4 linked regions of the Homo sapiens genome follow. The protein of the gene in region 3 interacts with the protein of the main gene of each other region in a pairwise test. Each region holds a gene or a part of one and is shown on either strand. Other genes may lie near its edges.

Evidence for each region.
Region 1: the proteins of TRAF3IP1 (region 3) and DMD interact in a two-hybrid assay, tested with the Homo sapiens proteins (2 studies listed by BioGRID and IntAct).
Region 2: the proteins of TRAF3IP1 (region 3) and SNAP91 interact in a two-hybrid assay, tested with the Homo sapiens proteins (2 studies listed by BioGRID and IntAct).
Region 4: the proteins of TRAF3IP1 (region 3) and FRMD4A interact in a two-hybrid assay, tested with the Homo sapiens proteins (2 studies listed by BioGRID and IntAct).

What each region holds. Positions count from the first base shown.
Region 1 is NC_000023.11:31,117,528-31,123,149, reverse strand, and holds the end of DMD (dystrophin), read left to right. Parts: intron 1-1,219; coding exon 1,220-1,231; coding exon of another isoform or gene 1,232-1,317; 3' UTR 1,318-3,928; downstream 3,929-5,622. UniProt on the Homo sapiens protein: Anchors the extracellular matrix to the cytoskeleton via F-actin. Ligand for dystroglycan.
Region 2 is NC_000006.12:83,599,925-83,608,718, forward strand, and holds part of SNAP91 (clathrin coat assembly protein AP180), read right to left. Parts: exon of another isoform or gene 8,509-8,794; intron 7,885-8,508; coding exon 7,775-7,884; intron 5,880-7,774; coding exon 5,761-5,879; intron 1,676-5,760; coding exon 1,661-1,675; intron 1,515-1,660; coding exon 1,347-1,514; intron 1-1,346. UniProt on the Homo sapiens protein: Adaptins are components of the adapter complexes which link clathrin to receptors in coated vesicles. Clathrin-associated protein complexes are believed to interact with the cytoplasmic tails of membrane proteins, leading to their selection and concentration.
Region 3 is NC_000002.12:238,350,419-238,359,212, forward strand, and holds part of TRAF3IP1 (TRAF3-interacting protein 1), read left to right. Parts: intron 1-2,408; coding exon 2,409-2,532; intron 2,533-2,754; coding exon 2,755-2,791; intron 2,792-5,585; coding exon 5,586-5,662; intron 5,663-8,794.
Region 4 is NC_000010.11:13,654,790-13,663,583, forward strand, and holds part of FRMD4A (FERM domain-containing protein 4A), read right to left. Parts: intron 8,721-8,794; coding exon 8,664-8,720; intron 5,765-8,663; coding exon 5,527-5,764; intron 4,702-5,526; coding exon 4,534-4,701; intron 2,734-4,533; coding exon 1,847-2,733; intron 1,141-1,846; exon of another isoform or gene 589-1,140; intron 1-588. UniProt on the Homo sapiens protein: Scaffolding protein that regulates epithelial cell polarity by connecting ARF6 activation with the PAR3 complex. Plays a redundant role with FRMD4B in epithelial polarization. May regulate MAPT secretion by activating ARF6-signaling.

The sequences.
Region 1 (5,622 bases), on a different chromosome or scaffold from region 3:
CTATATCTCTTGAAATAAATATTAAAACAAAATACTCTCCCTAGTCTATAGCTTTAATTTTTATTGGGATATCTTTAATTTTTATTGGTATTTTTAACAATTATTATGGGAATCTGTAAAGTTGATACATGGCAAGGTAGTAATAGCCTAGTAAAGCATTTCAGTTCCAAAGACAATACTTGAATAGTGGAAGGATTTACCAATGTGCAATAATTAAAATTAGCCATGTAAAACTATGGGACATAGACGAAAAGGCAAGCCATAAAGTAAGTCTCAGATTATCTTACTCTAAATCTGAATTTTGCTACGAAGTACCCAGGGACATTGTGCTGTTCTTTTTCTCCGTGCTGGGAGATTCGTGCTAGGTCGTGCTGCATTATTAGTAAAAGGCTATTGTGATAGTTAACCCTCATTTAGGAGGAGCTCTAAGATGGATTCACAAAATACCCAAATGCATACAATACATGTGGGTCACCTTATAATTAGGGTCTAGAGTAATTTGGAATGTAAAGCAATTTTTATTCTGAGGTTTCCTAATTCAAATGTTAATAGTGCACCAAAAGGTCAATTCAAGAGTTTATTATTATTATTTTTCAACCCAAGTAAAAGCAGAGAGAAAATAGCCACCTCCACCATAGCCTCAGAAGCAAGCCAACAGCCTGAAACAGCTTTGAAATGAAAAGTTGGTGTGGCGGTGATGGTGGCAGTGATAATGGTGACGATGGTTGGGTGCTGGTGATGGTAGTGGTAGTTGTGAAGGTGGTGATGGTGGTTTGATTGATAGTAAAAAAAATGTTCGTTAATACAAGTAGAGAGTAAGTAATCAATCAATCACTCATAGCCAAGGTGGAAAAGATGTATCCCATCATGGAATATTCCTGTTCTGATAGAAATCTTGTGCTTATCTATGGAATTCTTTTGATATATATTTACATTGGGAACCTGAATGTAGCTTGACATTTTTCCATGTAAACACCAGTAGCCTGATCCAACATTAAGCTGATACTAACAAACAACGTGTAATGGCTTCATTAATAAGGCTTTGCTTCTTCCTGGAAACTGGTGAAAAATCAAACCTTGTTGTGTACACCCTCGATGCAGCTTCTGTGTTGTCTTCACCCAGAAATGGGGAATGATTTCCCAAATGGCAAAGAAACAGAGTGATGCTATCTATCTGCACCTTTTGTAAAGTCTGTCTTTCTTTCTCTTTGTTTTCCAGGACACAATGTAGGAAGTCTTTTCCACATGGCAGATGATTTGGGCAGAGCGATGGAGTCCTTAGTATCAGTCATGACAGATGAAGAAGGAGCAGAATAAATGTTTTACAACTCCTGATTCCCGCATGGTTTTTATAATATTCATACAACAAAGAGGATTAGACAGTAAGAGTTTACAAGAAATAAATCTATATTTTTGTGAAGGGTAGTGGTATTATACTGTAGATTTCAGTAGTTTCTAAGTCTGTTATTGTTTTGTTAACAATGGCAGGTTTTACACGTCTATGCAATTGTACAAAAAAGTTATAAGAAAACTACATGTAAAATCTTGATAGCTAAATAACTTGCCATTTCTTTATATGGAACGCATTTTGGGTTGTTTAAAAATTTATAACAGTTATAAAGAAAGATTGTAAACTAAAGTGTGCTTTATAAAAAAAAGTTGTTTATAAAAACCCCTAAAAACAAAACAAACACACACACACACACATACACACACACACACAAAACTTTGAGGCAGCGCATTGTTTTGCATCCTTTTGGCGTGATATCCATATGAAATTCATGGCTTTTTCTTTTTTTGCATATTAAAGATAAGACTTCCTCTACCACCACACCAAATGACTACTACACACTGCTCATTTGAGAACTGTCAGCTGAGTGGGGCAGGCTTGAGTTTTCATTTCATATATCTATATGTCTATAAGTATATAAATACTATAGTTATATAGATAAAGAGATACGAATTTCTATAGACTGACTTTTTCCATTTTTTAAATGTTCATGTCACATCCTAATAGAAAGAAATTACTTCTAGTCAGTCATCCAGGCTTACCTGCTTGGTCTAGAATGGATTTTTCCCGGAGCCGGAAGCCAGGAGGAAACTACACCACACTAAAACATTGTCTACAGCTCCAGATGTTTCTCATTTTAAACAACTTTCCACTGACAACGAAAGTAAAGTAAAGTATTGGATTTTTTTAAAGGGAACATGTGAATGAATACACAGGACTTATTATATCAGAGTGAGTAATCGGTTGGTTGGTTGATTGATTGATTGATTGATACATTCAGCTTCCTGCTGCTAGCAATGCCACGATTTAGATTTAATGATGCTTCAGTGGAAATCAATCAGAAGGTATTCTGACCTTGTGAACATCAGAAGGTATTTTTTAACTCCCAAGCAGTAGCAGGACGATGATAGGGCTGGAGGGCTATGGATTCCCAGCCCATCCCTGTGAAGGAGTAGGCCACTCTTTAAGTGAAGGATTGGATGATTGTTCATAATACATAAAGTTCTCTGTAATTACAACTAAATTATTATGCCCTCTTCTCACAGTCAAAAGGAACTGGGTGGTTTGGTTTTTGTTGCTTTTTTAGATTTATTGTCCCATGTGGGATGAGTTTTTAAATGCCACAAGACATAATTTAAAATAAATAAACTTTGGGAAAAGGTGTAAAACAGTAGCCCCATCACATTTGTGATACTGACAGGTATCAACCCAGAAGCCCATGAACTGTGTTTCCATCCTTTGCATTTCTCTGCGAGTAGTTCCACACAGGTTTGTAAGTAAGTAAGAAAGAAGGCAAATTGATTCAAATGTTACAAAAAAACCCTTCTTGGTGGATTAGACAGGTTAAATATATAAACAAACAAACAAAAATTGCTCAAAAAAGAGGAGAAAAGCTCAAGAGGAAAAGCTAAGGACTGGTAGGAAAAAGCTTTACTCTTTCATGCCATTTTATTTCTTTTTGATTTTTAAATCATTCATTCAATAGATACCACCGTGTGACCTATAATTTTGCAAATCTGTTACCTCTGACATCAAGTGTAATTAGCTTTTGGAGAGTGGGCTGACATCAAGTGTAATTAGCTTTTGGAGAGTGGGTTTTGTCCATTATTAATAATTAATTAATTAACATCAAACACGGCTTCTCATGCTATTTCTACCTCACTTTGGTTTTGGGGTGTTCCTGATAATTGTGCACACCTGAGTTCACAGCTTCACCACTTGTCCATTGCGTTATTTTCTTTTTCCTTTATAATTCTTTCTTTTTCCTTCATAATTTTCAAAAGAAAACCCAAAGCTCTAAGGTAACAAATTACCAAATTACATGAAGATTTGGTTTTTGTCTTGCATTTTTTTCCTTTATGTGACGCTGGACCTTTTCTTTACCCAAGGATTTTTAAAACTCAGATTTAAAACAAGGGGTTACTTTACATCCTACTAAGAAGTTTAAGTAAGTAAGTTTCATTCTAAAATCAGAGGTAAATAGAGTGCATAAATAATTTTGTTTTAATCTTTTTGTTTTTCTTTTAGACACATTAGCTCTGGAGTGAGTCTGTCATAATATTTGAACAAAAATTGAGAGCTTTATTGCTGCATTTTAAGCATAATTAATTTGGACATTATTTCGTGTTGTGTTCTTTATAACCACCAAGTATTAAACTGTAAATCATAATGTAACTGAAGCATAAACATCACATGGCATGTTTTGTCATTGTTTTCAGGTACTGAGTTCTTACTTGAGTATCATAATATATTGTGTTTTAACACCAACACTGTAACATTTACGAATTATTTTTTTAAACTTCAGTTTTACTGCATTTTCACAACATATCAGACTTCACCAAATATATGCCTTACTATTGTATTATAGTACTGCTTTACTGTGTATCTCAATAAAGCACGCAGTTATGTTACAAAAAAGTATTGACTGGACTGCAGTACTTTGTTTTTATTTTAATTTAGTTGTTGTTACTTACTTACTTACTTTTTAAATAGGTAATACATGCATATGAGTAAAAAACTATAATCCAGAAAGACAGTGAAAACACTCCTAACTACCCCTTCCCCCATATCAATCAATCATCCTCATTGCTCTATGAGTAGACATTATTAATTTCTTATTTAGTCTTCCAGAGGGTCTTTCTTTATTAATTATTATATAAGCAGTTAAAATAATATATATGTTCCTATTTATTTTTTTCCTATTATTATTTCATAGGATATAGCATTCTCTGCACCCAGTTATGCACCTTACTTGTTTGTTTGTTTAAATTTAAATATGGACTCAAGAAATCTTTTCATTTAAATATATAAAATGCTTTCTCATTCTTTTTTATAGCTGTATAATATTTCATTATATGTTCATAGGATATTTTATTTAAGCAGTTCCCTTTGGTGGGATATGTAGTCTGTTGTCAGTCTTTCTTTTGCTATAACAAACAATATTGCACATTTCTCATTACATCATTTCATTTGTGCATAAACAAACAAATCTGTGGGATACTTCCTAGAAGTGAGATTGCTGGATCAAAGGGGGTAAGCATTTGTAGACTGGGAGATGATACATTTTGTGCAGTGATTGATTGATTGATAGTCATAGTGTTTGTTTGTTTGTTGTGTTTTTTGTTTTAATAATGACAAGTATATTAATTAAGTCAGTTTGCAGTTCATACTTTGCTTCTCAAGAGAATTTCATATCACTTCTATTCTTAATGTCACCATCTAAGAGGATGCATGAGTGAGTAGTAAGAAAGAGACACCTAAAATGATGTCTCACAACTGGTTCTGGGGAAGAAGAATCCCTTACCATAGTCAACCACCACCATGGGGAGAACCTCTCCTTTGCCCCTGCCCTGCTCTGTTTCTTGCCCTAGCTGCAAAGGAAGCTGAGAAAGTGGGTAGCAATGTCAGCACTTCTTAGGGAGAGGCTATCTATCTTTACCTATTCCCAAGGTTCATGGATGGGGTGGGCGGGGTTCCCCAACAGTGTTCAGATACTGGTGAGCCAAAGGAATAACATAAGTCCACCAGGTGCAGCCTATCCTAGTGATTTTGGAAATAATAGGAGATGAGATGATCCATCTCATTAGAAATGATGTTTGTTAGTAGATGTGGCATCTCTGCTGTGAATCAATCACTTGCTAATTTTTTGAAAGTAGGGTGATGATGCTGACCTAAGTGACTACCACATTGAAACACTTCCCTTGACATCCACACATACCAAGAAAAATTTTCATCCTATTTAAATAAACAAATCATTTATCCTTCCCACCATTACCCGAACCTACCTTTGTTTGAAACACCCAGACTGGCTGTTTTGGTGACACTTAAGGAGGTAACTGAGGAATCTTCAATACTTCACCACGTCTAAGACAACTGTGTGTGGATGACTCTGAGGAGGGCATTTGGTTTTCCATTCCATACTTGGCACACACTAGAAGAGACAGAATTAATTCAGTTAAAAATTAAAATGAATCGAGCTGGCACAGATTATGCACCGGCAAGCAAAATGTGTGTTTGTTTGGGAGAAAGCACCAAGACTAATGGATGTGTTCTGTAGAGCTGCGATGGGATTTCCCTGAATTTGTAATGCTCTAATGGTGGAATGAATACAA
Region 2 (8,794 bases), on a different chromosome or scaffold from region 3:
CAGGTGCTTGCCACCACAACTGGCTAGCTTTTAATTATTTTGCAGAGACAAGGTCTCACTATATTGCCCAGGCTGGTCTCAAACTCCTGAGCTCAAGCAATTCTCCATCTTGGCCTCCCAAAGTACTAGTATTACAGATGTGAGCCACTGCGCCAGACCATGGGTGACTCTTTATTCAAGGGTCTGCAATCCTTTTTCTCCTACTCTTTTACAAACAGGTTTCTCCTGTTCCATAGGAATGGACAGCAAGGCAGCAGAAAATGTCTTTTGTGCAGCAGTGGCAACAAAGCTGTGTCTAGTGGAGTGCTCCTTGTCTTGGATGATGTTGGCCAACCTTAGAGACTGGAGCATGGCATGTAGCAGAGTGGTAGGTGACAGTGTGTTAAATGTATGTTCCCAGGGGTACATATTGATTACACCAAAGCCTGCCAAATCTCTCTTGCTTTCACCATTTTCTTCCTCCAATTTCTTTACCATATTCTCAAAATGCCCTAGGAAAGATGTTATATGGTAATGAAGATACACAAAACTATAATGACTATAACATCACTTGACGTATGTGTTTGATATGAGAACTTCTTTAGGTGTGGACATTGGTACCACACAGATGGGGATACATATATGAATAAACTGGCTTCACATGGCTCATCAGGTCCAGGCATATTATAGTGGGTCAGAATTTACATTTCCATGGAAAGCATATTTTTAGACAATCATTTCAAAGACTGACTTAAATCTGTTTTCAATCAGCCTTTCAAGTGCTGCTTCAGATGTTTTCTCAGAGTTCCAAAACCAAAGATGATCCAAGTTTTTATTTGGACAGAACAAACTTAAAGCTGTAAAAACAGGCACATCCCTTAACTCTCTTCAAAGGCTTCCAAACCTGAATTACTCTTAGATTATTTTTTGCCCTAAACATTAAGAAACAACTTAGGCCTGTGTTGCTCCTCCTACATTCCCCAAATATTCTCTGGGCTAGTTCTAATCTGGCCGAAAAGCTAAATAAACCTAAAGGTGACAGAGAGCTCTGGTACCACTTTTATACAGACACTGGAGAGCAGGAACCTAAAGGCAGGAGTTCTGAAGGTAGCAACATGAATTCTAATGTTAAAAAACGTGAAAATCAAATGGGCCTGATGCATTGCAATCTCTGCTATAAAATTACTAAAATTAAGTGAAGAGAAAGTTGATGAATTTAGTGAAGATAAATATACATGAATAAACATTGAAAAAGTACTTAAACACTCTGACATGCTGTTACATAACGGAAAAAATTTTAAAGACCTTAACTCCCAAGTAATTTTAGCAATCCTGAAAAAATGAAAGTAGCAGCGAGACTAACTAACCTCCAAAGAGATCCACTTCAGCAGTGACAGCAGTAACAGTTGTAGTAGTGGAGGCAGAAGCTGAGGCAGTTGCAATTTCAGCAGTTGTAGTAGGAGGGGTAGGTTCTGGTGCAAATGGATCTGAAATCTGTGCTTCAGAGGGAACAGAGGAAAGTGCAGCCAAAGAATCTATATTTCACCAGAGACAGAGAGCAAACGGAGAGAAGAAAAGCAAAGGACAAAAGATATACCAGACTCCAAATGATCAAAATAAGGACAGTTGTTACATACAGAAGTCTGTCAAAATGGAAGTTTAAAAACAAAGCTTTACTCACCCTCTCCCAAAAGGTCTACCGATGTCCATTACATGGCAGCATAAGAATAAATAAGAGCTAAAGTTGAAACATGCAACCATACCAATGTCCAAGCCAGATAAGGCACTAACTAAAAAAACCTTAGCTTTATGTGTCTTCTACACCATTTGCAATTAAAAAATAAATGTACTACCTATTATCATGGAACTTTTAAGCTAGAAGGGACCTAGAGATCCTCTAGACCAAGTTTCACCTTTAGACATGTACTTCAGATTTTATTAACAAGCAAATGGGTCACAAAACTACTTGTGCTGTAGCTAACCTTATACATGAAGATATCAGAGTCATATGATCACATAATATTGATTAGCTTTCAAATACATGTTGGTAGATAATTTTAATTCTAATAAATTCTGGCAGTAATCCCATGTTTCTCAAAAAAAGTAGAAATTTCACTTTAAGCATGTATAAAAAGAAACTGTTTTCCCATGTCTAAAATATACAGACACACAACACACACTTATTTGTGCTTCTGCAACATGAATTTACTATGAAGAAAATAAAAAACACTCTATTAGGGAGCCAAAGATGAGGATTTAAAAAATCCTCTGTATTCTTTCAGCCGATTGGGTTCATCACCAGCCTGTAGAAATGCCAAATCTTACATGCACAATTTAAATTAAATTTACTAAAATAAATTTGCTAAAATTTGGTTGCTTTACACCAACAGGAAAAAAAATGCTATCATTACAATGTGTCCCCTGAAATAAAAATGTGTGTTGGTACCTATAACCCCCAAGAAAAATTTAGAGACATTTGAAGTGGCTATGGTCCTTGGAAATGAGACCATCCAATTAGGCTTACAGAGTTTTACAGTTTATAATTTACTGCCTAGTTATACAGAATTCAAATATGCTTCAATAATAGAAGTGGCTTGATCTTATCAAACAAGATTGAGAAAACAATTTTATTTTTTTGCTTAGTCAAATAAACAAACACATATCTGTTACAATTTAGCATCACCTTCAACCATGACTGGGTATCCACCGGGCAAATTGTAGAAGTTTATTTCAATTTCTTAAAGTCTTATAATTTTTACTATTTTGCTTAGAAATTAGAGAATTTCTTTATTAGCATTTCCCCCCAAAGCTGACTTTTCTATTGCTATGAAATGTTGCAGTTGTAGATGTTTTGTTGCGGCAAAAGTGCTGTCTAATCATCAAAAGGTGAACATCAGGCCCTATAAGGTGCCTTTGTACTAATTATAAAAACGTACTCCCTGGGGCAAGGAGAAGGACAGCATTAGGACAAATGCATAATGCATGCGGGGCTTAAAACCTAGATAACTGGTTGATAGGTGCAGCAAACCACCATGGCACATGTATACCTATGTAACAAACATTCTGCATGTGTATCCCAGAACTTAAAGTTAAAAAAGAAAGAAATAAGAAAGTTTACATGGTTTTCACATATTTATCATTTTAAACAGGTTAAAGATAGTACCTTTCTTGGGTAAGTGTAGTGATGACCAGCATAGTACTTGTCACAGGAGCACTCAATCAATATTAGCTTTCATTGTAACTTGAGAGCTATCTTAGTTTTTATTGTAAAATTAATCTTATGTGTTTATCAAAAAAACTTTAACCTTATAGTCATTTAAAATAACTGAAAAAAGCATAAAAATATGCTTTTAAAATCAAACTACTATGGAAACTGCTTTACCCCAAATTTTGGCCCATTAGCTTACCTATTGGGACAACTGATGTTTAGCCATGTGAACAAGCCCCATTTTGTCAGAAATATAATTTGGATCCAACTGCCTTTTTGTGATTTTTTTTTCTTTATTTTTGAGAAAGGATCTCACTATGTTGCTCAGGCTGGACTCTTAACTACTGGGCTTAAGTGAGATTCTCATCTCAGCCTCCTCAGAAGCTACATGCATGAGCCACTGCACTCAGTTTTTTTAATCCAACTGTCTTTGGTAAATCAGTGAGTTCGTTTTACTGTCTTATGGCTAAAATTTGAAAATAAAATAAAAGCTATATTCTAAAATAAAAGCTATAATATCTTAAAAAGAAGAAAAAAAAAAGGTACTCCCTGTAGTGAGACAGATTAGAAAAAGTAAAGCATCTCTTTCTCAAGGATAATGAGAAAGGCTCACAGCGTGACTATAGAGTTCTGGCTGGATTTCAGCCCCCTTGCCCTGCCTTTGAGCAATGCATGATCTACATTGTCTGTATAGTACAGCCCTGGCTAAAACCATACTGCTCTGCTTTGTCTTTTTATGTCCAATGGTATGTTAATGTTTCAATCATCAATAGTTACATATTTCTAACTTTAAAGGCTAAAATGTATTCTAATAAAATTGGTTATTACAATCAATTCCTTACAATATTATGTGTCTTAGCAAAAAGTATTTAGAGATGAAAATGAATAAAAATGTTATATTGCAATTCAACAAAATTTCACCTTTTATTTTTTCCTTTTATTTGGCATTCTTTTAGTGCCAAAATTTTTTAAAAAAAGATAAAATTTATCTTCAGTTTCATGCCAGGGAATATGGAAAAGGGACTAGTTTACAGTTTCACTGTTTATTCATTAAAGTTCTAACAAAGACAATATGGTAATGAAAATAAATTATTAGCAAATTAAAATAATCAGTGATGAAGCTCAGAATAAAAACATGAGTAAAAAAGAATGCCCTTATAAAATCTCTTTAGCAATATTTTCCTTTACCAATAGAAATTTAATAAAGTTAAATAAAGCTGAGAGAACAATTTTATTTTAAAAATTGATAGCTGTAGCCTTAGGAGTTGAACATTTCAATATAGGATAAGGTTTACATATTTAAAATGGAAACGTGCCAACATTTTAAATGTTCTTATTTATAGTTAGCAACATTATTTCAGAACTGGTTATCTTTCTCTTATTTTTGTTACCAAAATAACTTGGAAATGAGATCAAGAGATTACAGATAGGACTTTTGATGTTATACTGACACACTGTTTAACAAGACCACCAAAGGACATTCAATTATTTAGAGAAATATAACTTCATTTGACTTAGTTATTATTGTGCACTAAAGGCTCTGATTCTCCAATGTTATGTTGTTACAGATCTTGTCTGCTAGTGATGCAAATAATCTCTGTATGGGAGAAAAGATAACCTCAAGGCTATGATTTTTATTACCCTATAGGTCATTAACAGCTTTCTATCTAACCTAGCCATCTTATTCTAACATTCCTTTTAAAATACCTATAAATACTCAGTTCCTCAAAATGTTCTTTGAGACAGCTTTATCATCTTGCTGGTTTCCTCATTAGTGAGTTACTAAGTCTTTTATTTCTGTTGCTCCTATAGTTGTACAAGGCATGTCTTAAACTTTTTGAAAATTTTATTCTGATAGTTTGGTACAGGAAGGCATGGTATTTAAAACCAACTCTTTGCAGCTTTGAGCATTATGAAGCAATTACTTTAATTTTTATATTAATATTAAATGTTTTAAATCAAATATTTATAAAAGGCTGATTTTTTTCCTGAGATCCATAAATAAAGTGGGAATCAAGTGCTTAGATGTGATTCCTCTCAGTCAATCAGTTTAAAGTATGGATTTTTCTGGTACAAATAAGAATCTGTAAAAAGATTTCAACTGTATGAAGTCAAATACAATGTGAATAAAATCAATTCAGGCCTAAAAGAATCCAGGAACGAGGCTACACCTGACCAAACCAAATTGGAAATGTTACCTTTGAGTAACCATAAATTAAGGGGAATACTCAATCCTCAAGGCCTGAGTCTCTAGAGAACAATTACTAAAAATAATCAGAATTTTAGAGTAGTAATAAAAAAGAACAACAAAAAACCCACAAAACTTCCTTGTTCCAACTGTTAAAATAAAAACTATATGACTATTTGAACATTCTCACTGTATTACAGGCACTTTCTCTGTCTCTCTCTCTCAATATATATTTCAATCAATAAATGCCATTCTTAACATTTTCCCTCCAAGTTTCTAATACCATTTTAGATAATCAAAAGGTAAATGTTAACAATTATAGCCTAAGTAAAAACAATGAAATAAAATGAATAGAGAAATGGCAAGGTTGTCTGGTTTTACTCACCTCCCCATGCAGTGGCTCCTCCAGCAGGTGGTGGTGGTGCTGGTGCTGCGGCTGCTGCTGCCCCTCCAGAGGAAAAGTCTGGCTGGAGGTCCAGGAGATCACTAGATGGTTTAGAAGTGCTGAAAGGAAAATAAAACATTAAAATCAGATTTTGAAATTTTATAACATAAAGGTGTTTTTGAATAAAGACATGCAGAAATCATCAAAGATTTTAGGTATTTTAAATCCAATAAAAGAATAATACTTTGGAAAGTATAGAGCTATAGCATATACCAAGAGTTGGCAAACTACTTTTGTCAAGGGCAAGATGGTAAGTATTTTAGACTTTGAGGGCCAGTTGGTCTCTATCATTACTTGACTCTGCTAATGTAGAATGAAATTAAGACATAGACAATACACAAACAAATCAACATGTCTTTGTTCAAATAAAACTTTATTTACAAAAACAGAGAGTGGGCTGGAGTTGATCTATGTGCAGCATTCTACAGGGAAATCAAAATCATAACCTTGAGGTTATCTTTTCTCTATTTCCTAAAATCTTTTGTATAGAAAAAAAATTCATGTCTTGAGAAGAATTTATTTATAAACCAAAGAACACTAAAGGGAATTATTAACCACTAATTTATCTTTTTCCTACGTTAGACTATAATATATCAAGTTTGCCTGTAAGAGGACTTACCTAAAACGACTACTGCATTTTTTATTTTTACTCAGTTGAGGCTGTGCTTTTCAAAGCTTCTCTGTCTGTAGAATCTCCAAGGAGCAGCCTTACTATTCAAAGTATAGGCCTCAAACTAGCAGCATCCTGGGATGTTTTTATAAATGCAAAATCTCAGGCATACCCTGTATCTACCACCTCAGAATCTTCATTTTAATAAGATGCCAAAGCAATTCACATGTACCTTCAGATTTGAGGAGCACTGGCTTAAAAGTTACCAGGCCAGGTGCCAAGCCATCAGGGTCCCAGGTTCCCCACCTGCCTTCATAAACAGCAGTTTCATCTTTATCTTTTTTTACATATTAGATTTCCAAGTAATATTCTTTTGAAGAAAGGATTCTGCTGCTTTTTAAAAAAAGTTTCAAAACCACTGAAACCATTGCTAGTTTTGATGTCCATTTCATAAATACAACTGGACTAAATACCAGGAAAGGAATACATATTTATTATTAATATCTTAAAGCTTTTGTAAGAAGCAATTTAATTAGAACAGTAATAGAAAGGAGTTGGTTATGCCAAATTTGCTATTATAAAATGCAGAACTAAGCAAGTAGAGAGTAAAGCACACAGTTAACATGGGTACAATACTTGGATTTCTTGCTCAGTTCAAAGTTCAAGTCTCCAAACATAGGGCATTCATAATCAGAGTCAAAGATACTACAAAATGATATTAGAATCCTCTTAAGGCAAATGAACTAAGGAATTGACCTAAATTTATTATTTGAGGACACACCTATGAGCTGGGGATTGATTTTAGGAGGCTAGAGATTTCAAAGAACGCACAGTCATCCCCAGATTTCTCACTACTGTTCTGATCTGTAGGTTCTATAAAAACTGATTAGGAATACCCCAAAGGCCTCCTCCTACCACCAGAGTGTGAGTTCCTCATACGCACTAGCTAATTGGTCAAACAATTCCAAGTTGGGTTGTGTGTGTGTGTGTGTGTGTGTGTGTGTGTGTGTGTTTTAAAGCATTTTAAAATACCTTTTGAATCTCCCACAAGAAGAAACTAATTTTAGAAAACACTTTCCATATCAGCCAATTTCAGAATAAATTGTGTGTATCATTCTTCCATTTCCTTTCTCAGTTTGTGACAACAAGGTGATTTCTATAGCTTAGGTCTTTCTAATGATTTAAGAGGCACAGGAGTAAAACAATGTACTTTGTGTAGTAAAAACTTCAACATTACTAGGATTAGATTTCCTTTGGTGAAATCATTTGGGTACAGCACATAAAAATAAAACCAAACTCTAATAAAATATTAATAAACAGTTAACTGCATATTTATTTACCAACCTGACTGGGACAGCCGCAGATGCAGTTGCAAATAAATCAACCGGTGGGGATGTGTCAATAGTTTTAGCTGGTGTAGAATTAGGAGACGTAACAGTTGTGGCTGGAGAAGACTGAAAGTGAAGATGCACAACACACTTGAGTCAAATATGAATCTACAGGACACAGGGCAGCAGGACTTTTCTTTGTATAACCATGACATGCCCAGCAATTTTTTTTTTGTAATTCTTTGTGGAGGAAAAAAAAACTCAATAAAATTTGAAATCAAGGATTGTAATAAATAATCAATATTGGCTAAAACATGTTACAAATTTTAAATGTAATTTATATAAAATGATAAAATATTTGGCTTAACATTGCAATGACTTCCATTCATTAATTAAAATAAAAGCTAAATGTATTTCCTGAACATAAAATTATTAGGAAAGATCTTACTAGCTGCAAAAAATTTCAAAAATTATCAATTGTAATAATTGCTAAAAAAACCAATGTCATTATTTTTTCTTGTCATCCTAAAAAGATTTCATGTGAGGTCCTCTCAGATGACCTTCAAATCCAGAAATCTAACTTGCAAAATAGTTCACAGTTGGAAGAGAACGATTCACAAGCAAGATTCAAGTCACTGATGTTTTGAAGATATCATGACTATAGCCCATCACTAAGATGACATAGATAAAACTAAAAAGGTAAAAATAAAATCTAGTATTTATTTTTCAAGAAGAGGTATTAATAGTCAATTAATATATTACAAGATTTTTATTTAGTTACTGTAACTAAACAATTTTGTCTGGTATATTTAATTCTCCATTCATTCACAAGAGAAAGATTAATGGAACATTTCAAAACAATGTATTGATACTTAGTTCTGTTAGTGGAGATGAGACATAACAGCAGGAAGATTCATGAAGACCAAGACCAAGCCAGGGCTATCAGATACTCCCCTAACTGGGCATCTGACTTCAAAGAGACCAAACATAAAGGAAGTTTTAAAAAGAATAATTTGAGGAAAAAAAAAACTGAGGA
Region 3 (8,794 bases):
TGGTACTTATTTTTCTCATGAGCCGTAAGAGGGTCTGGGGGAAGAGGAGTGTCAGAGGAGAGAGGGGCTGGGTGAAGTCGCTGTGCACGAGAGTGGGCTAGTGAAGAGACTGGAGCAGAGGTTTTCCTCTAGGGGTGATCCTACTTTGGGGACACTGGGCCATGATCTGGAGACATTTTCTGGTGTTCTGATGAAGGGGAGGGGTTAGGGCAGGGCAGTTGCTGAACCTCCTACAATGCACAGGACAGTCTCCACCACAAAGGAGGATGGGCTGCCTGCCCATAGTGCCTGGGCGGAGGCCGTGGCTGACAGCTGACTTCAGGGCAGCATCTGGTGGACTTGGGCGTAAAGAGACAGAAGATGGTGTGGCGGGGCCTGTTCTGCAGCTGCAGTTGGCTACACCTACAGGCACTGGGGGGCACAGGCTGTATTAAACAGGGCTCGGCTGTGCCAAGCAAGTGCACCGAGAGAGAAGGGAAGGAGTAGGAGTATGTGGAAGCGCCACGGTCATGACCAATGTGGGATTTATGCCAGTGAGTGAGGGAGGAGCCCTCGGGGTGAAGGTCAGGAGGAGGCATTAGGATTGAGAGGCTGAAGGTGCCGGATGGATAGAAGGATTGTTGGAGTCAGGTCCTAGGGCGGTGAGCTGGGAATATAGATAGTGGTGGTAAAGGAGTGGGGCGCTTGGATTTGAGGTTGGAGCTTGCTGTTAGTGGTAGTGACAGGGGTGCCCCTGGGAGTGGGCGTCGAGTGTGGGAGGTGGGATCATCCCAGCAGGGTTCAGGGACCCAAGGCCAGGATTTTGGAAGGATCATTTCTCAATACTTGAAATCACAAGTAAGACAGGAGCACCGTTGGTGAGAGTGGCGGGTCCAGGAGGACTGGGTGGGACCATGGGTTGGCAGCTGATGGCAGCAATGATGGGGTCGAGGGTGACAAGATTTAAAGTTGGCAGTTTTTAGGGAGAGTGATCTGGAAGCCGAAGCAAGCATAAGGAAATTACTGACCTTCCCTCTGGGCCCGTGACAAGAGGCCGGTGGGAGGAGCAGCAGCTGCAGCTGAGGGCTGTGGGGAAGCTGTGTCCTGGAGAGCAAGGCGGGACAGAGAGGGCCTGCCGATCACGGCAGGCACAGGGGCGCAGGTGTTGAGGAGGTGGATCGTGGGCCACAGTGAGGGTGTGCTGGGAGCGTGAGAGACGAGGGACGGGAGCCTGGACTTCCTGGTACTGACAGAGCAGCGGGTTCGAAGTGAGGTTGGTCCTGGCGGAGCCACACAGGTGGTTGTTGAGTGTCTCAAGGACCCAGTTGAGGAAGTCGAGGATGTTTGGGGCAATGGGTGTTATTTTCAGAGGTCGTTCCCAAGTGTCTACATTCCCTCTGGACCTTGTGCATGGCACTGAAGCAAGGGAGGATTTTGGTGTGTGTGTGTGTGTGTGTGTGTGTGTGTGTGCGCGCGCGCGCGTGTGCGTGCATGTGCTTGTGTGTATGCGTGTGTGTGTGTGTGTGTGTGTATGCATGTGCACGCATGCAGCACTGCGATAACGGGGCAGGGGGAGTTAGGTGATTGCTTAAAGCACAAGTGTGTAGGGAAGAAACAAAGGCAGGAGGGGCCATTAAGGAGCCTGTAGAGTGTTTGGGTCGGGGGCTCACATTTGTACAGAGTGAGCTGACAGTGGCCTGAGTGAGGAGGAGTGGGGCAGCTGTAGGTGGGGCAGTTCTAGTAGGTGGCCCTGGAGAGCATGAGAGAGCCCTTGGGTGAAGGCTGTCACCAAGGAGGACAAGGTCTGGGGCTGGAGGGCCAGGCTGTTGGACGCTGACTTGCCCAGAATGATGTGGACTTGGGTGGAGCGCAGTGTGTACGTGGTGCTGAGCGGGACATAGGGCAGCCACTGTGACTAGGAGTTGAATGAGGGGCCTCCAGCTGGCTGTGTGAAGAGAGGTCTGGGGTCAGCCCTGGTCAGTGGGACCCCAATGTGGCCCCTGCCCTGAGGTTTGTGACCCAGGGCAATAAGCGCCTCCAGGTAGAAAGCAGCAGGTGAAGGGCTGGTGTCACTGAGAGCGCAGTCAGGGGAGAGGCGGAGGCCCTGAGGGTCTTTGTGCAGTAGAGGGCATGACGAGGCTGTGGGGACGGGAGGCCAGGTGTGGACCAGGAGGCCTGGGCAGCACAGGGACGTGGGGAAGCTGGGTGGGGGTGGAGGGCGAGGCTCACAGGGACTCAGGCCTGGAGGGCTTGCAGAGGACACTGTTTGCAGACAGTCCATCTTAGCTTCAGCGGGTAGCTTGAGATGCTGTTCTAGCTAGAGATGGTTGGTGATTAGATTCCTCTCTGCCGACCTCTGACACAGTTTCAGATGCTTGGGACTGATGAAAATGTGTAATTCTAATTTAATCTAATTTCTTTTTATTTAGGTCAGGGAGTGGTAAAACCGTTTCAAATGTGATTACAGAGTCACACAATTCTGACAATGAAGAGGATGATCAATTTGTGGTGGAAGCTGCCCCTCAGCTCTCTGAAATGTCAGAAATTGAAATGGTTAGTTAACCGAAATATGATGTTTTTTAATAATAATGTTTTACCTTCATTGAGATTAATAGTCTAGCTTTTAGATTTATGTAGACAAAAATGTCCTGTAATTTTTCAGTTAGTTTTCTACCTTCGTTAATTTTGTTGTTCTTTTTTTGAGATCCACAGAAGCATGATCTTTAAAATTCAACAAGCCTGAATCTTCTTTTTCCCCCTTCCTTTCCTGCTCAGGTAACAGCAGTGGAACTAGAAGAAGAGGAGAAGCATGGTGAGTCCTGGGCACGAGTGTGCATGTATGTCCATGTGTGTGTGCTCATGCACCTTCTCCACGTGGGCCTGGAAGGATCCAGTGCAAGGGACTGTTGTGTGCCAGGTTCTGGTCTGGGTCACACTGGCGGGATCACACTGGTGGTACATAGGACCCTGCGGGCATGGATTACTCTTAAGGCGATGGCTGCTGCTCCCCATCCTTAGAGGAGGGGGAGGGCACAGTTGGAAGCTGGAAACTCACTGGCAACTGTCCTGCAGATGACATCTCGTCTCTTCCGTACGATTAAATTGTGGAAGTAGATGATCTCTGAGGCCCTTTGCAAGTCTAGTTCTGGAATGTTATTGTTGGTTTTCTAGCTGGACAACTCAGTAGTGCAAACCCCGTTCCCCACACCAGGGTTTGAGTATCCTGGAACACAGTTTCTGCAGAAGAGGCAGGCTGAGTACTTTCCTTTATAGATCTGTTCTCACAATATGACTTTGTTTCCTGGCACCTATCACAGGTGAGTAACGAGGGCTTGTTGGTTTTGGGGGTTTGGGGTTTTTTTTGGTATCTATATGAAGCCACCCTTTTTTATTTGAGGCGGAGTCTTGCCCTGTCACCCAGGCTGGAGTTCAGTGGTGCTATCTCAACTTACTGCAACCTCTGCCTCCCGGGTTGAAGTGATTCTCGTGCCTCAGCCTCACAAGTAGCTGGGACTACAGGCGTGCACCACTATGCCTGGCCAATTTTTGTATTTTTAGTAGAGACAGGTTTTCGCTACGTTGGCCAGGCTGGTCTCCAATTTCTAACCTCAAGTGATCCACCCGCCTTGGCCTCCCAAAGTGCTGGGATTACAGGCATGGGCCACTGTGCCCAGCCTAGTCACGGATTTTTAACATAGTGGATGTGTTTCATTTCAGCCCATCTCAGTTTTTCTTATTAATGTTCAGATTGCCCAGTATTTGACCAGGGGAGCCTATTGGAGTTATTTTCTGGGGGCCTTTAGACACATCCCAGTACACTCTTTAGCTTCCTTGTTTTCTGATACGACAAGGTGTTTCCAGCTTATTTTGTGTACTTCCTGCCCCATAACTGCCTCATTTCTCCAAGGCACCTGGCCGCTTACTGCTCTGGGTTGCTTCTTGTTTCCAGGCATTTTCACTGCAAAAGCAGGGATATACTTTTTTAAAATAAGAAAGTATATTCTGACTTAGTGATGATATTTCCAATTCCGATTTAGGATTGTAGGGTTTTGCCTGCATTCTTTGGTTTTATATATGCATCTCTTCCATCTCATGCCAAAAAGCCTGGCTCCCAGCAGCAGCGGCTGTCCCCATGCTTTATGATCCTTCATATGCTCACATAGCAATTTTAGAACACCACGACTGGTTTTTAACAACAATAGGATTACTGGAAACGCTGAAGGATTTTATTTTATTTTATTTTATTTATTTTTATTTATGTATTTATTTTTGACATGGAGTCTCGCCCTGTCGCCCAGGCTGGAGTGCAGTGGCGCGATCTTGGCTCACTGCAACCTCTGCCTCCCGGGGTCAAAAGATTCTCCTGCCTCAGCCTCCTGAGTAACTGGGATTACAGGCGCCCACCACCACACCCAGTTATTTTTTTGTATTTTTAGTAGAGACGGGGTTTCACCATGTTGGCCAGGCTGGTCTCGAACTCCTGACCTTGTGATCGGCCCCCTTGGCCTCCCAAAGCGCTGGTATTACAGGTGTGAGCCACCAAGCCCAGCCCAAGGACTTTTTTTTTTTTGGTAGGTATGTCTGCCTGTTTGTTGGGTATATCCTATTAGGGATGTACAGTCAGTTACCCTGTTTTAAAGTTGTGAAACAATTCTCTAGTGGCGCATGCTTGCCAATTGGATATCACTAAGTTTATTTCATTTTGCATTCAACCTTTAGGCATTAGTGTTGTTTACCTTTTTAATGTAAGATAATTCGCATGATTTTAAGGTCAGATGTACAAAACCAGGTATAATCAGAAATGTGGGGCTTTGACCCGTCTTCTCTACCCTCTACTCTCCCTGTCTCCTCTACCCTCTACTCTCCCTGTCTCCTCTACCCTCTACTCTCCCTCTCCCTGTAGGTAACAGTAAAATAGGGCTTATACTTACATTTGAAAAACAAACAAATAAATAAATGCATATGCATGTGCATGTGTATTTACTGATACCTACACTTATTTCCATCTTGCTCTTTTTAATTTGACAGCAGATGCAGGCTTTCATTTTGCAGCAATGCAGAGAAACCATCCTCATTTCCTTCATAGCCACGTCGTCCTCCACCGTGTGGACGTACCCTCGTTTATTCAGTCAGCCTCGGGCTGATGTATGCTTGGGTGAAACACTATTCCAAAAAACTTCACATGATATTTATCCCATGAGTAAATTCTGAAAGAAGTGGAATAGTCTTGCCCCAGTGTAAAAGAAGTATCCGTACTTAGAAGCATTTCTTGTTATTTCTGTTTGTAATAAATGGCTATATTTTTGGATGTCAATCTACACTCCTTCTTAATCTTTGAAAATAGAAAATCTATTTTATTTCTAAAGCTTTTTACTTTTCAAGGAGCTGATTTCCCTGAAACACTTTGAAATGTGATAATTTCCACTACCAGCTGTCTATCACTCTTGTGTACTATCTCCTTAACAAATAAAGATTATTTGAAACTGTTTCAGCATAAAAAGAGATAGGATAAAAACTTAGTGTTTTTCCCACCATCCCACCCATTTAGAATAGGTTTTTGGGATAGAGAATAAACTTTTAACATAAAATCACTGATTTTTCAACAGGTGGACTTGTGAAAAAAATTTTGGAGACGAAGAAAGATTATGAGAAATTGCAGCAGTCACCCAAACCTGGGGAGAAGGTAATGGAATGATTTCCATAAACACTGGCATTTTAGCAGTCTGTTTCATGCATTTACAGACTTTTACAAGTTGGAGCATCTTTCAATATTACCATTATCAGTGATGTCTGTTTGCATATTTAAATGCCATTCCTGGCCAGGCATGGTGGCTCACGCCTGCAATCCCAGCACCTTGGGAGGCCAGCGCAGACAGCTTACCTGAGCCCAGGAGTTCGAGACCAGCCTGGGCAACATGGTGAAACCCTGTCTTTACAAAAAATACAAAAATTACCCGGGTGTGGTGGCGCATGCCTGTAGTCCCAGCTACTTGGGGGGCTGAGGCAGGAGAATCGCTTGAACCTGGGAGGTGGAGGTTGTAGTGGATTGAGATTGTGCCACGGCACTCCAGCCTGGGCAACGGAGTGAGACCCTGCCTCAGAAAGAAAAAAAAAGCCATTCCTCCCTCCTCCCAGTTGGGAGGATATAAAGTGTGGGACTTCCTCTGTGGGGCTACTTCCCTGGCCTGGTATCCAGCCCCGTCTTGGGAGGGGGCAGCGGCTTACTTGGGGAGCTCAGGAGCCAAGAGCCAAAGGCCTGTTGGGCTCTGACTCCCTGACTCTCCCCTTCTGGCCTTGCCCATCCCTTCTCCCAGGTCCTGTTTGCAGACTGGGAGGCTGGCTGCCTGATCCTGGCTGATTGCAAAGTAAGAGACTGGGAATTTTTTTTTTTTTTTTTTTGAGGTAGAGTCTCGCTCTGTCGCCCAGGCTGGAGAGCAGTGGCATGATCTCGGCTCACTGCAAGCTCCGCCTCCCGGGTTCACGCCATTCTCCTGCCTCAGCCTCCCGTGTAGCTGGGACTACAGGTGCTCGACACTGCTCCTAGCTAATATTTTGTATTTTTAGTAGAGACGGGGTTTTACCGTGTTAGCCAGGATGGTCTCGATCTCCTGACCTCGTGATCCACCCACCTTGGCCTCCCAAAGTGCTGGGATTACAGGCGTGAGCCACCGCGCCTGGCCGGGAATGTTTTTAAGTCTTTTTTTTAAATACATGTTCTATTGTACCTGGTTCCCCGCAGTCTCCCTCACACATGTGTGATGTGCTTTTGTTGGGACCTGTGGCCTCTTGCCAGCCACTACCCTTTCCTTGGGCACATGACCACTAGGGCGGGCACCTGTGGGCCAACAGGGTGTGTCTCAAATGCCACAGCCAGGTTTCTCTTACAGTCACTTTAAAGAGGAAGAAGAATTTTTTTTTTCTTTTAAACAGAAGTTTCTTGGATATTTAGCCTAATAACTCAACAATTTAAAAAAGTTTTATATATAGGGATGTGTGCACACATACGTACACACACATGCACACATATATGTATTTCTCCCCAGCTGAATTAATGGTTGTTTTAGATAATTTTGCTTAACATGTCCTAGTTTGTCACAAAGCTAGGGCCTGAAATAGCCAATGAGAACTGTGCAATTGAGACTAACAGTAGAGGGAGCCCTTTTAACAATAATAACTGGAGAATGTTGTCGGCGGAGGCTTTGCTGACAGCACCACTGTTTGCCTTGCTGAAAGGAGAAATGCCTTCTGCAGTTTGTTTTTTCATTGATGGAATGTTAATACATTATAGTCCTTTCTGTATGCATGAGGGGTTGTCCTGGTGTCCCTGGTGGTATTTCTGAGACCCAGTCGAAAACCCTGAATGTGTCCCTCCAGGCTCCTAGTGGAGGTCACCTTTGAAGCCTCCATTGGTTTCAATTTTATAGCTATGATTTTTACGCAAAGCATATTAGGATTGTGTTTCAAAGTCTCCTTGGAAGAGTAAATTATTTCAGATTGGTAAATCTTTGGGCTTCAGAAGATGAAAGGAAAAGTGTCCTTTTTTGGTAAACATCTGCTGTTTTGAAAAAGAGTGGTCAGTGAGAACTTCAAAGTCAGGGTTGATGTATGTTACAGTTAGGGGAAAATCAGCAAGTGTCTGTATGATTTTCTTTAGGATATTGATAAACATCAGACTTAAATTTAACTTGTTGGTCTTCTTAAAACATTTTTGTTACATTTTTTTTTTTTTTTGAGTCAGAATCTCGCTCTGTTGCCCAGGCTGGAGTGCAGTGGCGCGATCTCGGCTCACTGCAAGCTCCGCCTCCCGGATTCACGCCATTCTCCTGCTACATTTTTTTTTTAAATAAATAAAAATGTGGCCAGGCGCAGTGACTTACACCTGTAATCCCAGCACTTTAGGAAGCCAAGGTGGGCGGATTGCTTGAGGCTATGAGTTTGAGATCATCCTGGCCAACATGGCCAATCCCCTTTCTACTAAGAATGCAAACATTAGCTGGGCATGGTGGTGCACACTTGTAGTCCCAGCTACTCAGGAGGCTGAAGCACAAGAATCGCTTGAGCCCAGGAAGCAGAGGTTGCAGTGAGCTGTGATTGCACTGCTGCACTCCAGCTTGGATGACAGAGCAAGCCTGTCTCAAAAAAAACATGTAGGAAGAGCCAAAGTCCTTTTTCCCCCTGCCCCAGTCCTGTTCCCCCGAGGGCAGTCCCCAGGATGAACTTGGTGTGTATCTCTACTTTGGATGTGCCTCGTGGTGTTTTTTGAGTTTCTAATGTCACCCTCGTGTTGATCTGTTATGCAGGTTGCTTTCTTCATGCAGCATGTTTCTCTCTCTCATGTTTTGATACATGTAGATGTAGTTTATTCATTTTAATTGAAGCCTTATAGTCCATTATTTGCTTATTAATTACTCTATTGATGGACATTTAGGTTTTTCAGCCATTTCCTTTCATAGACAATGCTTCCATGGCTCCTCTCCATGCCTCCTAGCATTCAAGAGCCAGTGTCTCTTCCAGCAAGAATCAGGCCACTTTCTGTAAAGGGCCAGATAAAAATACTTCAGGCTTTTTGAGCCAGATGGTCTCTTGCAACTATTGAATTCTGCCGATGTGGCATGAATGCAGCCGCAGCATTAGACCATGTAAATGAGCATGTGTGGCTGTATTCAATAAAACGTACTTTACAAAAACAAGGTCCAGGCTGTGGGCTATAGTTTACTGATTTCAGCTTTGGGGGTTATGCCCAGGCTTAGAAGTGCTGTGCCAGGAAGTACACAGATCTTTAGTTTCACCAGATAGGCCACTTTCCTCCTCAAAG
Region 4 (8,794 bases), on a different chromosome or scaffold from region 3:
GTCCCCGCTTTGCCACCAGGAGGTAGGCATAGGGATGGTGACGGTTTCTACAGCAGCAAAGAATCTGATGTCCCCATAGTCCTTTGAGCGAGACCTGAGCAGGGCTCATACAGGGAGGGCATATTTCTCTGGCCCCAGGGCATTTTCAGTGTGGCCCTGTTATGAAATTGTTTCTCCCCATTGTGAAGAGAGGGCATCCAGAAAGGTTCTCAGAGCCTGCTCTCTCTGCTGTTTCAGGCTTATCATTGCTACTGTAGGGCGCTTTGAAGGGAGCAGGGCTTTTAATAGCTCATCCAAACCTGACCACTACGCATTTACTGATGTAGGCAGCATGGAAGTCCAGCTGGAAAGATTTAGTAGGAAGTCAATCCTACGTAAATGCATCCTTTGCTTTTTTGGTAAAGGAATCCTTTCCATCAGTAAACCTCAGATACAGCTTAACAATTTTAGTCTAAAATATGTTCCAAAAGATCTACCTCATCTCTTTACATAAAGCAAATCTACTAGACCAGTGCTGCAGTTTTGATAGAACATAAACCCTCCTGTTTGTTGGAGATATTTACAAAACGTTGGTTCTTTATCTAATAGGGTCACAGAATGATCATACTCAAGATCTTCCTGGGGAGTCAATGGCAAATTTCACTGGGCTATTTTACAGATGAAGAAGGAACATAAAGAAGGTTCTGGGACCCCGAAGTCCACGGAACACCCACCATTACCTGATCTTTGGAGCTTGTCATTTGGCCAGTGGACCCTAATAAACGTCCACGGGGATGTGGGGATAGAATGCCAGAGCCTGGCTCGCTAGGGCATCCAGGTTCTTCCTTCCTCTTTGCCCTGCTGTCTCCAGGCACCAAGAATCTCCTACAGTTCCCCAAAGATGAACCCCCCATTATCTCAGGTCACTCTGTTTCCCCCGATCTTTACCAAATTCCTGACTCAGAGTTCCTCCCATTTGCTTCTGACTCTCATTTTATTCTTACCTCTCATTTTATTCTTATGATGTTTACCATTTCTCTTCTCCTCAGTGTCCCTCTCTGAGTGGTAAGAGTATGTTAATAAGCCAGTGCTGAGACCGGAGCACGAGGCAACTGCTCAATGTTGGTCATTGTCACTGTTATTAAATGTAACTTAAGGGAATGAGTGGTTTCTTCCTTTTTTTTTTGTTTTTTACTTGATTCAATACCGCCCAATGCTCTTGAGTATGAGAATATAAGGTAAACTTTATAGAAATTTTCAGATATAACGTCAAGGATATTTAAGACACTTAAATAATAGTTTGTGGCTATGGCATAACATCATCATCGAAATGGGAAAGCCAGGAGCAGCCAGGAATTCTGTCAAACGCACAGCTCTGGCACTGTTTATTAGCCAGTCTGCCCCCATCTGGGGAGACACTGGCCAAATCTCTAGGCTTGACCCAAGCCCATCCCCAACCCAGCTTCCTTTGCAAGCTACAGCTGTGGGCTTTCACTGGGATACTCTCCTCACTAGGGTAAAAGACACCTTTGGTTGGATAAACCCAGAGACATTACTTTTACTTTACCTAACTAACTTTCTTAGATTTCTGTCTTTACAAGGAGAAATGGGAGAGCTGGCCCAGTGCACTCTGGAGGGTCAGGTGCACGGTTATGGTGCAAGATTAGGGTTAGAACGGGGCGGGGTCAACAAAGGCCTGGAAGACCTCAAGTCTCCCGCATCTAACAGCAGCGTTCCCAGAATTAATTAATGATTCCCGTTCCTCACTGCACCCAGTCCTAAGGGTACCTTCCCCGCGGTAGCCCTTGACACCGGCAAGCAGTTCGCCCTCAGGTCTTCCCGCGTGCACCTGGCCGCCCCCTCTCACCTGACGTGGCCTTGCACATCTGGGGCATCCTGGTGACCCTGCTGTGCGCCACGAAGGTGCTCTGGGAGGAGGTGCTGTACTGCGAGCCGCTGTCCGAGGAGGTGGAGCTGGTGTGCGACAGGCGGCTGTGCTCCTTGTGCGAGGCGGTGGAACGCTGGTACCACTGGCGCAGCTCGTCTGAGACGGCGGCACGGCCCGCGCCCTTGTCGTGGGCGCCCTCGCGGCCCAGCGACGGAGTCCGCAGGATCTGCGATCGCGACGGCGTCAGGCGGCCCGTGTCGCCCTCGTCGCCGCCGCCGCCGCGCCAGCTCTCCTTGAACAGGCCGCCCGCCGTGTAGGAGTTGGACGTCTTGAACTGAGCCTTGACGCTGTAGTGGCCCTCCTGGTCGCTCTCCAGGCTGCGCACCACCACGGGCGTGGCGCCGCCCTCGATGTACAGCGGGTACTCCTTGATGCGGTACTGCGAGCTGGGCTGGCTCTGGCTGTGCAGGTACACACCGCCCCCCGCGCCCCCCGCGCCCCCCGCACCCCCGCGCGCCGCCAGGTTGGGCATGCTGCCCGAGCTGGCTGAGCCCAGTGCGCCCGCCGCCCGCTGCCGCTGCCTCTGCCTCTGGCGCGCCTTGGACGGCGAGTCCTCGGCCAGCGTGGAGTAGTTGGCGTTCATCTGCGCCGGGTAGTAGTGCTCCGAGCTCGAGTGGCTGGTGCACGACGAGCAGTCGTCCATGGGGTCTGAGCCGTTGCTGCTACGAGTCCGCGGGGTGTAGAAGTCGGGGCTCCCGGTGTCGTTTTCCGAGCCCAGGAGCTTGCCCTGGGACTCCAGGCTGGAGCTCCGGTGCCTAAAGTGCAGTGCGAGGCTGTGCAGTCGGGTGGGGCTGATGTCCACCGACCTGCCGGGAGACGACCCGGGTTGGTCTGGGGGTGGGGAGTGGGCCCAAGGAGGGGTGCTCCGGGGAGGAGGGGGTCCTGAGGAGGGCACTGGGTGTCTGCACGCGGGCGCAGGCCCCAGCCCAGCAAGCCAGAGTCTCACTCAGCAGGGCTGCCCCAGGGATCCGGGAACTGCCCATTGCGGGAGGTGAACCTGGGGTCTCCACCATGATTCCCAGTGGGAAGTGGGACTGAAGCTAGGACTCACAGAAAGGTTTCGATTTCTGGGTTTTTTTTTTTTTTTAAATAATTCTATAGACACAAAGAGAATCACAGAATCCTTAGTATCATGTTAAACCAGATAGGGCTGGGCACTGTGGTCCACGCCTGTAATCCCAGTGCTTCAGGAGGCTGAAGAATTGCTTGAGCCTGGGAATTTGAGACCATCCTGTGCAACACTGTAAGACCTCATCTCTTACAAATAAATTAGAAAATTAGCTGGGTGTAGTGTTGTACACCAGGGGTCCCAGCTAGTCAGGAGGTTGAAGAGGGAGGATCACTTGAGGATGCAGTAAGCTATGATCAAACCACTGCACTCCAGCCTGGGCAACAGGGCAAGACCCTGTCTCTCTTAAAAAAAAAAAAAAAAAAAAAAAAAGAAAACACAAACCAGATGAAATGTCCCTATTTACAGATCAGATAAAAGCAGTCCTACAGAGGCCCTTCATATTGTTTAACCAAATACTATTACATGATCCATATAAATAGACTCCCCTTTCCTGTGAAAACTGGGAAATAGAAGGTTGGTGGCAAATGAGATAATTAAACAATGAATGATGCAAATACTCACCATACCATTACTTTATAATTCATTCTGCTCGTTTGAGTCCACTCAGGGCTTAGGGAAGTGCAAAACAGTATCACATGGCAGATGATGTTGCCCGATGCTGGGACTGCATGTGAACTTCACAGCGGCCCCACGGGCCAAGCACAGGAAGAGGCGAGTCCCACTTCCGACTGCCACTCAGAAGGGGGATGAAAGCCCCCATCACGTGGCCCTCCGTGATCTGGTTTGCTTCTTTTTAGAAAAAGAAGGTGTGGCTAGGAGCGGTGGCTCACGTCTCTAATCCCAGCACTTTGGGAGGCCAAGGTGGGTGGATCACCTGAGGTCAGGAGTTCCAGACCAGCCTGGCCAACATGGTGAAACCCCGTCTCTACTAAAAAATACAAAAATTAGCCAGGCGTGGTGGTAGGTGCCTGTAATCCCACCTACTTGGGAGGCTGAGGCAGGAGAATCGCTTGAACACGGGAGGCAGAGGTTGCAGCGAGCCAAGATCGCGCCACTGTACTCCAGCCTGGGTGACAGAGCAAGACTCCATCTCAAAAAAAAAAAAAAAAAAAGAAACAGAAGGTGTGATTCACTGAAGCCTCATTTTTGCCTGGCTCTTTTGCTCTTTATGAATTTACATTTTGAGGCACTAAAGGAAGTCCAGTATAAATTTAGGCCTCAGTAGAAAGATAGAAGACCTCTTCCCATGCTAACCCAGCCAGCCTCTGTGGCCTCTGCTTTGCTTAGGAAACTTTCCATGCTCCCTGTCTCCAGAAGCCCGGGGATTCTTTGGCTGACTCCAAGTGCCCTGTGCATGGGTCTCTTGGCTAACGGGGGTTGACTGCTGCCAGCTTGGTTTTTTATTCCGCTTCATTTATCCTCCCAGGTTCAGGTCTGACTGTAGCTCATCCATTATTTGGGCCAGCTTGGGGCTGACAATGCCCAATTTTAAAAAGGAAGGCTTGGTCTGAGCAGGAAGGCCAGGCAGACTCACCTCGTGGAATGGACGTAGTGGGGACTCCGGACCCGCAGGTCTGGCGTGGACGGCATGCTGGACTGGGAGTTCCAGTGCGGGAGGCCGCGGATGGGGCTGTTCTGCAAGGAGTTGCTTCCTCCGCCGGCTTCCGCACAGCTTCCTGTGCTGGGGAAGCGCTTGTGGCTGCTGCAAAGCCAAGGATGCCACGTGGTCACCGCCAGACAGACAGCACCTTTCCTGGGGGGCTGGCTAGTTCAGGACAATGATCCCAGCATGTGGGGAAAGCTCGCCCGTGACTCCCACCTCGCTTGGTCAGACCTCTACTGTGGTTCTCAGCCTTTCCCCAGCAGGGGGTATGCCCTCCCCCCTCCCAACCTAGGCAATATGAGAGGAAAACCCTGGTCAGCCTTCTCTGTGTCAGGCAGTGTGACGGTCCTGCCCTTACAGTTTTTGTTTTCCAAGAAACAAATATTTACCTGTCCTGGCACCCCCCTTGGAGCTTGGTAGGGTGATTAAAGGAAATGGGAAAAACAGAGAAGCAGACCGAAAATGCCTTCCCCCCCAAAAAAAACCTCCCTACAAAGTCAGCCCGGTAATGAGCTGATAATACACAGCTTGGATTACAGCTGCTTGGCTGGAGAATTCTGCTGGATGAGGGGGTAGAGTTCTGAACCACTCTGCATTTGCTCCGAGTGGACTTTCACTTGCTATTTCAGAATAGCGCTGCCTGAGATTTCCTAATTAATTCCTCTGGAATTTAACAGCATTCAAACCATCTGCCATCACGTTGATTGTGGGCCAAAGCCCCAATTTCTCTGAGTCACAAAAATGTACCTCAACAGTGTCGGCAGCAGAGGGCGCTGTGAGCACGGCCCCGTGAAAGGCAAACCCCACGGGGAGGAACTAGGTTGATGTGGATTTTGTCACCGTGGATGCTACTTGGGACGGCCCTTTGATTCTTCCAGAGCATAGAGGGAGGCCTCATTTGGCCTCATTCACGATGCAGCTCACCTGGAATGGCTGTGAGAGGAGCGCTTCTTGACCTTCTCATAGGGTTCATCTAAAGAGGACTCACTCCACATTTTGGGCTTGATGGGTGACTTGTCATAGTCGTTGCGGTGATAGTGCATCTGTCGGAGTCCCTCCAGGGACTGGGGAGGAGGAGGCCTGTTGTGCGACGGTGGCCGAGGAGGGAGTCCCTTGTGAGGAGAATGTAGGGGGGATATTGTGCTGGTAACCTGAGAGTCTTCTGCACAAAGACAGGAAGAGAGGAACTGAGCCCCGGTCATCCTTCCCACAGGCTGAGACAGAACCCCTACACCCCTCCACCCGCACCTTGGAGCCACACAGCCAAACCCACACCTTCACCCCTGTGATGAGAAACCCTGAAACTCTTCCCCAGTTGCCAAGACAAGTCAAGACGAGTCAAACCAAACCAGGGCAAGCCAAACCTCCACTGCAGGCGGGATTGCATGGGAAGAGATGCGTCACTTTTGATTAGACACGAATGGAGTGAAGTCTGAACGTCATTAAATACCACCAACAAATGACTGCTTCACACTAAACAGCAAAATGTAGTTACTGCTGTAGTGCTAAGTTGTCTTTCAACAGATGCTAAGCATCTGATTCACTGTGGGAGGGTCTGAGTTCTGGGAGAGTTTTGTCTGTTTCATCTGCTGCTAGATCCTCAGCCGACACATAGTAGGTGCTTGATAACCATTGGTTGGAGAAGAAAAAATGAATGAGGGTCTATATGTCCATTGTAAATACCTGCTGGGTGGATCGGGTGTCTACTCTGCTTTTTTCCCCCAGAGCTGTGTTTATTCTCTTTTAATCTCTTCCTCTATATTTTAATTTTGAAACTGCCTTAACTTTTTTAAGGAGATGAGCTACAAAGATTATGTATTAATAAATGATTCCCTGCCTCCAGGAAAGAAATGATCTAACACGTCAGTGCGCTAGAGGACTTTCAGAAAAAGCAAATTCAGTGAGTCTAGGAGGTGCTGTGGGAGAGGCTGGTCTTGAAGGGGCTTGAGCAGTGGGCAGGCAAAGAGGAGGAGGAAGGAAGGGCTTGAACCAAAGTGTGGAGGCCCTGAGGGCAGGGTACCAGCTGCAGGCACATCTGGCCAGGCAGGGGCTGGTGAGGAGGGGCAGGGGGAGTAAGGGCAGAGCTCTGGCCAGCACAGCCGCCTTCTGTGTGCACCATGTGAGCCAAGAGCCCGACTGATGGGGGCCTGGAATTCCGAGTTGAGATTTTGAAAAGCCACAGGAAAACTTTGCGATGTCTTAAGCACGGATGCGTCGGAGTGAAAAATCCTGTTTTAGAACTATTCACCTGGCAGTGTTCTAAAACTAGAAAGGAAGGGAGAGAGACTAGAGAGGGGGATGAATGAGGACTTCAGGCTAGGGCAGGTCAGCATTGAGAAGAGAGAGGAGGGAACGATTCAGGCTTCACAGGGAAGGCAGACATGGGAGGTGGAGGGGAAAAAAGCACAGAAGCAAACCTTACAACCAACCAACTACCATTCACTTGCCCCTAAATCCATTTCCAGCGACTTGTTTCACAGCCTAATTCTCAGTCCCCCAGCCGTGGACACCCACTATGCACCCACTCCTCCTTTGCCCTCAAATCAGTAAAGGAAGAGTCCCCAGAAAGAGACCCTGCAGTGGGACTGTGGCAAAAGGATGTGCCGACACCTGTGAGGAAGTCCAGGGGTCTGCATCTGGAACACGGGGAAGAAGCTGGAATCACGGAATGATATCTCAAAATTACCCCGTGACATTACCTATTGCTCCAGGCACCCCTCTACTACCAAGGAATCTCTCAATTTTTCTTCCCTTTCCAGGGGAGACTGGGATACTCAGAGGCCAACCGCAGGGCTGGGATCTCTGATGCTCAAGCCCCCCATTTCCTTGTAGCCCAATGGCGTCCCCGGCTTGTAATGAAGCAGACAAATATATTCCAATCTGATTTCTAATAGCACAGCCAAGGTGACTGGGTAAATAATCCGCCAGACTTTCCTCACATCAAGAGCAATCATTATTATTATTGCAATTATCATTATTACTATGACTAGTGTGGACCTTTCATGCTTTCCATCTGAACAGCCACTTATCACTGCCTGCCTGAGGTTTCCATACAGGGCAAAAAAATTAACTGCCACTTAATATATTTCCATATAATTAATGTACCCGCCTCCCAGTACGATGGTTAAACATCCACAGGAGTATTCTCACATGGTTCTGGGTTTGGAATTCTTTCTTCCCCGACGTATGGTGGTGATGGGGGTTGGGGGAGGGATCAGTTCTGTTTTTTTAAGAATTTCCCAAGAAAATATCCTAACTGCCAGGTTTTAAGAGTTCAGTGGGAAATAATAAGACAGTTTTCCAGCCTGAGTGTGTATCTACTGGGATATCTCCCCTCTTACTTTCACTACTGTCTTGGGAAGCAACAGAGGGTGTGTTCCATTTCTTCTCACGATCCTTACACTCTCCTAGTGGGTTTCAATCTTTGATTTGTGATCTAAATCAATTTCTACCCTTTTCTTTTAGATACCATGAATACTCAAAAGGAAGCTATGCCTAGTGTGTAGATTCTCTGTCTAGCTAAACGTGGTTTTGGGCCAGGTATGGTGGCTCCTGCCTGTAATCCTCCCAGCACTTTGGGAGGCCGAGGTGGGTGGGTCGCTTGAACCCAGGAGCAACATGGCAAACCCAGTCTCTACAAAAAAATACAAAAATTGCCAGGTGTGGTGGCATGCTGTAGTCCCAGCTACTAGGGAGGCTGAGGTGGAAGAATCACTTGAGCCTAGGAGGCAGAGGTTGTAGTGAGCCGAGATCATACCACTGCACTCCAGCCTGGGCAATAGTGTGAGACCCTGTCTCAAAAAAAAAAAAAAAAGTTTTTGGCTTCTAAAAAAGTAAAGCACCACTCACTGATGAAAAGCTCTAATACACATGGGTTTATGCAGCACCTACCCACTCCCAACCAAAGAGGTGAATACTGGGAAATGAGAGAGCTTGCAGGGAGCCCAGCTGCCTTTTGGCCTGGCTCTTGCCTTTACACAAGGCAATCCCCAGACTACATAGAAATTCATCTCTGTTTACTCTGAGCTGTAGGTTTGTAAGCAGGAAATGCATAAACCTACCATCCTCAAGAACAAGGGCATCTGAGAGGGAGCTGTCTTCACTGGCAATGTTTCCATCTGAGAAGACAAAAAGCAATAGCCTATGAGTTCAGCACATTCCTTCAGCAAAGCCCTATCTGTAAAAATAGCAT